Regions from separate parts of the Homo sapiens genome. Here region 1 is linked to region 2. The links come from fine-mapping of genetic effects on gene expression. Tissue or cell type: whole blood. Region 2 holds a variant in brackets; the other region holds the start of a gene. All regions are shown on one strand. Distances are from middle to middle.

Region 1 (2,684 bases), 43 kb after region 2:
CCAGCCTGGGCCACAGAGCGAGACTCCGTCTCAAAAAAAAAATAAAAATAAAAATAAAATTATCATTTCTGGCTGGGTGAGGTGGCTCACGCCTGTAATCCTGGCACTTTTGGGAGGCCGAGGCGGGCGGATTGCCTGATCTCAGGAGTTCGAATCCAGCCTGGGCAACACGATGAAACCCCGTCTCTACTAAAAATACAACAACAAAAAATTAGCCAGGCGTGGCGGCGTGCGCCTATAGACCCAGCTACTCGGGAGACAGAGGCAGGAGAATTGCTTGAAACTGGGAGGCAGAGGTTGCAGAGAGCCAAGATCGCGCCACTGCACTCCAGCCTGGGCGAAAGAGAGATTCCGTCTCTTATTAAAAGAAAAAAAAATCATTTCTAAAATATTTTGTAGACGCAGGGTCTGGCAATGTTACCTAGGCTTGTCCTGAACTCCTGGCCTCAAGCGATCCTCCCACCTCTGCCTCTGAAAGTGCTTGGATTACAGGTGTGAGCCACTATGCCCGGCCTGTACTAAATTCTTTAAAGTTGAGAGGCTCCACATTGGCTCTTCTTCCAGCCTTGAAGACTTTGACCGTGGAATTGATCCAACGAATGCCTCTTCATCCCTCAAATTCCGCCTGAAATGTCACTTCCTCAGGTAAACCTGAGTTCATAGGGTAGGGCACAATCCCACAGGGTGGGAGAGATCCACCCACTCACCCACTGAGATGCAAACTAATCCAAAGGGGCTTCTATTCCTCTTTCAAGCATAGGGAGTGCTCAACGACTCCACCCTGCGACCCCAGGCTACGGGAAGCAGTTGACCCTGCAAAGCTCTCCACTCCCTCACCATCTGGGAGGGGACGCTGTGCTGGTGAAGCTTTTAAAACCAACTTGCAGACTTACTTGGACCCTCAAGTTTACTCATATACATAAAAAGTGATAAGAATCCGAAAAGACAGCCAGGGGAATTAAATGCCAGTTGGGGCCAACGGGGCCCTGATCACGGAAGAGGGCGCCCCCAGCTCTCAATCTTCACACAATCCCTGCACCCAGGGTCACAGAGCATGCGCAGGTCCTTCCCGCCCACTTCCGGGGCAACTGCCAACCACCGCGCAGGCTGAGCCCCAGGCAGGAAGCAGCCCACTTGGTGGGGTTGGGGTATGAGTCCTTCCTCGCGGGGGCTCGGTGGGTCCTGAGTATTCTTTGGCCGGATTTGCTGATCCGTCTGCTCCAGGTGAGCTGGGAAGGCCGCAGGAAAGGCCCAGAAGGGCCTCGCCAGGAGGCTTAACTGGACAGGGGCTTCTTGAACATTCTCTGTGCCTAAACCTCCGGGTCGCTGCCTGCCCACGACTGGATCTCCTTAGTGTCTGGCGTAGCTCTTGTGAAAAATTCAGGATTGTAGAGTTAGAATGGGGGTGTTGAGCCTGTATCAATTAAGCTTTAAATGTTATGATCTGAATTAGGGTTTATGAAGTGGCTATGTTATCTTCAAAGAGTTAATGTACGTGTTTGGGAGTGGGGGTTGGGGAGTTAAGGGAGCGAAGTGGTAGCTGCCAGTTGAGAACCCACCAGCCTACGTCGTCTGCACCCTCGACCTATGTAAGCATCCTGTAATCCTCACAAGGGTCTTACAGGTACGAATTATCATTTCAACTTTGTAGATGAGGCGCTTTAGGTGCAGGCATGTTAAGAATCAGCCAGTATGATGATGGTTGAAACTGAGAGCTTGGAATCTACCACAGGTTTTATTTATTCCTCAAACAAGCTAGAGACGTATTGCCACCAAGAAGCTTGCTGCCTGGTGAGGGGTTTTTACAGTTAGGTAAAGAATTGCAGAGTAGCTGTAAAATCACATAACTGTGATATGTGACATGATGGGAGCTAGGCAAAAAACTTGGACTAGATCTTAATGGATCTTTTTGCTTTGTTTTCCTTAAAGCATAGGTTCACAAAGTACAGTCCGCAGGCCAGCAGCATCATCTGGGAACTTAGGAAAAAACCAGCCCTACTGAGTCAGAAACTGGGGATGTGGCCCAGGCAATCTTTTACCAAGACCTCCAGGTGATTATAATGCAAGGTAAGATTTGAGAATTGCTTCCATAAAGTAATAAAGGACCAGTGGAATGTTTTCAGTTGAAATATGAAAGGATTCTGTTTGTATTTGAAAAGGTCAGTTTAGCTACAGACTTCAGAAATTGGAGGCACCATTGTGTATCTAGGAGAGAGACATAAGTGGTTTAAACTAGGGTGGTGACTGTGCCTACAGAGCTGTTCTGTTCACTTAATGTCCTGATTTTAAATAGTAGAGAAGACTGCTTTGGGTGTATGCTTGGGGAAAGGAGGGCACAATGATACCTGGAGTGAGTCCTCTTGTGTCCTTTATGAAGGGGTGGCCTGCCCCTCCACACCTGTGGGTATTTCTAGTCGGGTGGGACGAGAGACTGAGAAAAGAAATAAGACAGAGACAAAGTATAGAGAAACAACAGTGGGCCCAGGGGACCGGCGCTCAGCATACCAAGGACCTGCACCGGCACCGGCCTCTGAGTTCCCTCAGTTTTTATTGATTATTATTTTCATTATTTCAGCAAAAAGGAATGTAGTAGGAGAGCAGGGTTATAATAAGGAGAAGGTCAGCAACAAACATGTGAGCAATAGAATCTATGTCATAATTAAGTTCAAGGGAAAGTACTATGA
Region 2 (2,684 bases):
AGTGGTAAAATTTAAAAGCTGGCAGCAGTCACACATCATAGGATGTATTCAGATTCTTTTTTTTTTTTTGAGACTGAGTCTTGCTCTATCGCCCAGGCTAGAGTGCAGTGGCGCAATCAGTGAATCCTCTGTCTCCTGAGTTCTGATTCTCCTGCCTCAGCCTCCCGAGTAGCTGGGACTACAGGCATGTGCCGCCATGCCTGGCTAATTTTTTTATTTTTAGTAGAGACGGGGTTTCACCACGTTGGCCAGGCTGGTCTCGAACTATTGACCTCAGGTGATCCACCTGCCCCCATCTCTCAATCTGCTGGGATTACAGGCATGAGCCACTGTGCCTGGCTGGGGTTCTCTATTCTAATCATAGAAATGTGTTTGTTGAGACACTAAAACATTATGATATAGATGAACTTGATATAATACACAGTGTCACCATAGGATACTGTGAAAAGCAAATTGCCCTCTCATCCCACACCCAGGTTTCTCTCCAGAGTTGCCATTCATAAGTTTCTTCCATATCATTCCGGGAAAATCTTATGGATATATCAGTATACAAGCAAAGAAACCCTTTTCAGTTTGTTTTCACACCAATGGGAGCAAGTTATATTCAGCGTTCTGCATTTTATTTTACTTCCCACCTGTGCCAGAGGGAGGAATCCTGGCTTATCAGCCAGCCTGGATGTGGAGCAGAAGAAGAGAGAGGGGTGAGGATTAAAAGTTGTCAGCAAACATCAAAAATGGAGTCACACTCTTTATTAGAAGTACCCGCCAAGAATAAAGCAAGAGAATATATCATACTCTACAGTCTTTCAGGTACGATACCATTGATCTTTGACTATTTTGATTGTAAGAGATGTTGAAAAAGGTTGAAAGCAGAAATAAAGCATACATTTTTCTATCAACATGTCAGTCAGTGAAAACAAGTATGATCCATTATTCAAATTAGAAAATAAACTACAAAATGAACCCTCTACTCTCCCTCTCCCTCTCCCGCTCCCCATGGTCTCCCTCTGATGCCGAGCCGAAGCTGGACTGTACTGCTGCCATATCGGCTCACTGCAACCTCCCTGCCTGATTCTCCTGCCTCAGCCTGCCGAGTGCCTGCGACTGCAGGCGCGCGCCGCCACGCCTGACTGGTTTTCGTATTTTTTTGGTGGAGACGAGGTTTCG[C/T]TGTGTTGGCCGGGCTGGTCTCCAGCTCCTAACCGCCAGTGATCCGCCAGCCTCGGCCTCCCGAGGTGCCGGGATTGCAGACGGAGTCTCGTTCACGCAGTGCTCAATGGTGCCCAGGCTGGAGTGCAGTGGCGTGATCTCGGCTCGCTACAACCTCCACCTCCCAGCCGCCTGCCTTGGTCTCCCAAAGTGCCGAGATTGCAGCCTCTGCCCGGCCGCTACCCCGTCTGGGAAGTGAGGAGCGTCTCTGCCTGGCCGCCCATCGTCTGGGACGTGAGGAGCCCCTCTGCCTGGCTGCCCAGTCTGGAAAGTGAGTAGCGTCTCTGCCCGGCCGCCATCCCATCTAGGAAGTGAGGAGCGCCTCTTCCCGGCAGCCATCCCATCTAGGAAGTGAGGAGCGCCTCTTCCCGGCCGCCATCCCATCTAGGAAGTGAGGAGTGTCTCTGCCCGGCCGCCCATCGTCTGAGATGTGGGGAGCGCCTCTGCCCCGCCGCCCCGGCTGGGATGTGAGGAGCGCCTCTACCCGGCTGCGACCCCGTCTGGGAGGTGAGGAGCGTCTCTGCCCGGCCGCCCCGTCTGAGAAGAGAGGAGACCCTCCGCCTGGCAGCCACCCCGTCTGGGAAGTGAGGAGTGTCTCCGCCCGGCAGCCACCCCGTCCGGGAGGGAGGTGGGGGTCAGCCCCCGCCAGGCCAGCCGCCCTGTCCGGGAGGTGAGGGGCGCCTCTGCCCGGCAGCCCCTACTGGGAAGTGAGGAGCCCCTCTGCCCGGCCAGCCGCCCCGTCCGGGAGGGAGGTGGGGGTCAGCCCCCGCCAGGCCAGCCGCCCTGTCCGGGAGGTGAGGGGCGCCTCTGCCCGGCAGCCCCTACTGGGAAGTGAGGAGCCCCCCGCCCGGCCAGCCGCCCCGTCCGGGAGGGAGGTGGGGGGGTCAGCCCCCCGCCCGGCCAGCCGCCCCGCCCGGGAGGTGAGGGGCGCCTCTGCCCGGCCGCCCCTACTGGGAAGTGAGGAGCCCCTCTGCCCGGCCACCACCCCGTCTGGGAGGTGTGCCCAGCGGCTCATTGAGAACGGGCCATGATGACAATGGCGGTTTTGTGGAGTAGAAAGGGGGGAAAGGTGGGGAAAAGATTGAGAAATCGGATGGTTGCCGTGTCTGTGTAGAGAGAGGTAGACATGGGAGACTTTTCATTTTGCTCTCTACTAAGAAAAATCTTTATCCTGTTGATCTGTGACCTTACCCCCAACCCTGTGCTCTCTGAAACATGTGCTGTGTCCACTCAGGGTTAAATGGATTAAGGGCGATGCAAGATGTGCTTTGTTAAACAGATGCTTAAAGGCAGCATGCTCGTTAAGAGTCATCACCACTCCCTAATCTCAAGTACCCAGGGACACAAACACTGCGGAAGGCCGCAGGGTCCTCTGCCTAGGAAAACCAGAGACCTTTGTTCACTTGTTTATCTGCTGACCTTCCCCCCACTATTGTCCTATGACCCTGCCAAATCCCCCTCTGCGAGAAACACCCAAG

Evidence for each region. PIP is the estimated chance that this variant, and not a neighbour inherited with it, causes the effect.
Region 1: it holds the start of TRIM61, and the variant in region 2 is fine-mapped to the expression of TRIM61 in whole blood (TOPMed, PIP above 0.99).

What each region holds. Positions count from the first base shown.
Region 1 is chr4:164,976,071-164,978,754 of GRCh38, reverse strand. TRIM61 (tripartite motif containing 61) reads left to right here and starts at 1,098. Exons shown (of 3, transcript NM_001414904.1): 1 at 1,098-1,224; 2 at 1,930-2,067. RefSeq lists enhancers at 820-879, 910-989.
Region 2 is chr4:165,019,249-165,021,932 of GRCh38, reverse strand. No RefSeq gene overlaps it. Among named protein-coding and RNA genes, the nearest start is that of TRIM60, 11 kb to the left of the region's middle. The variant C/T (reference allele first, on the strand shown) is at 1,168.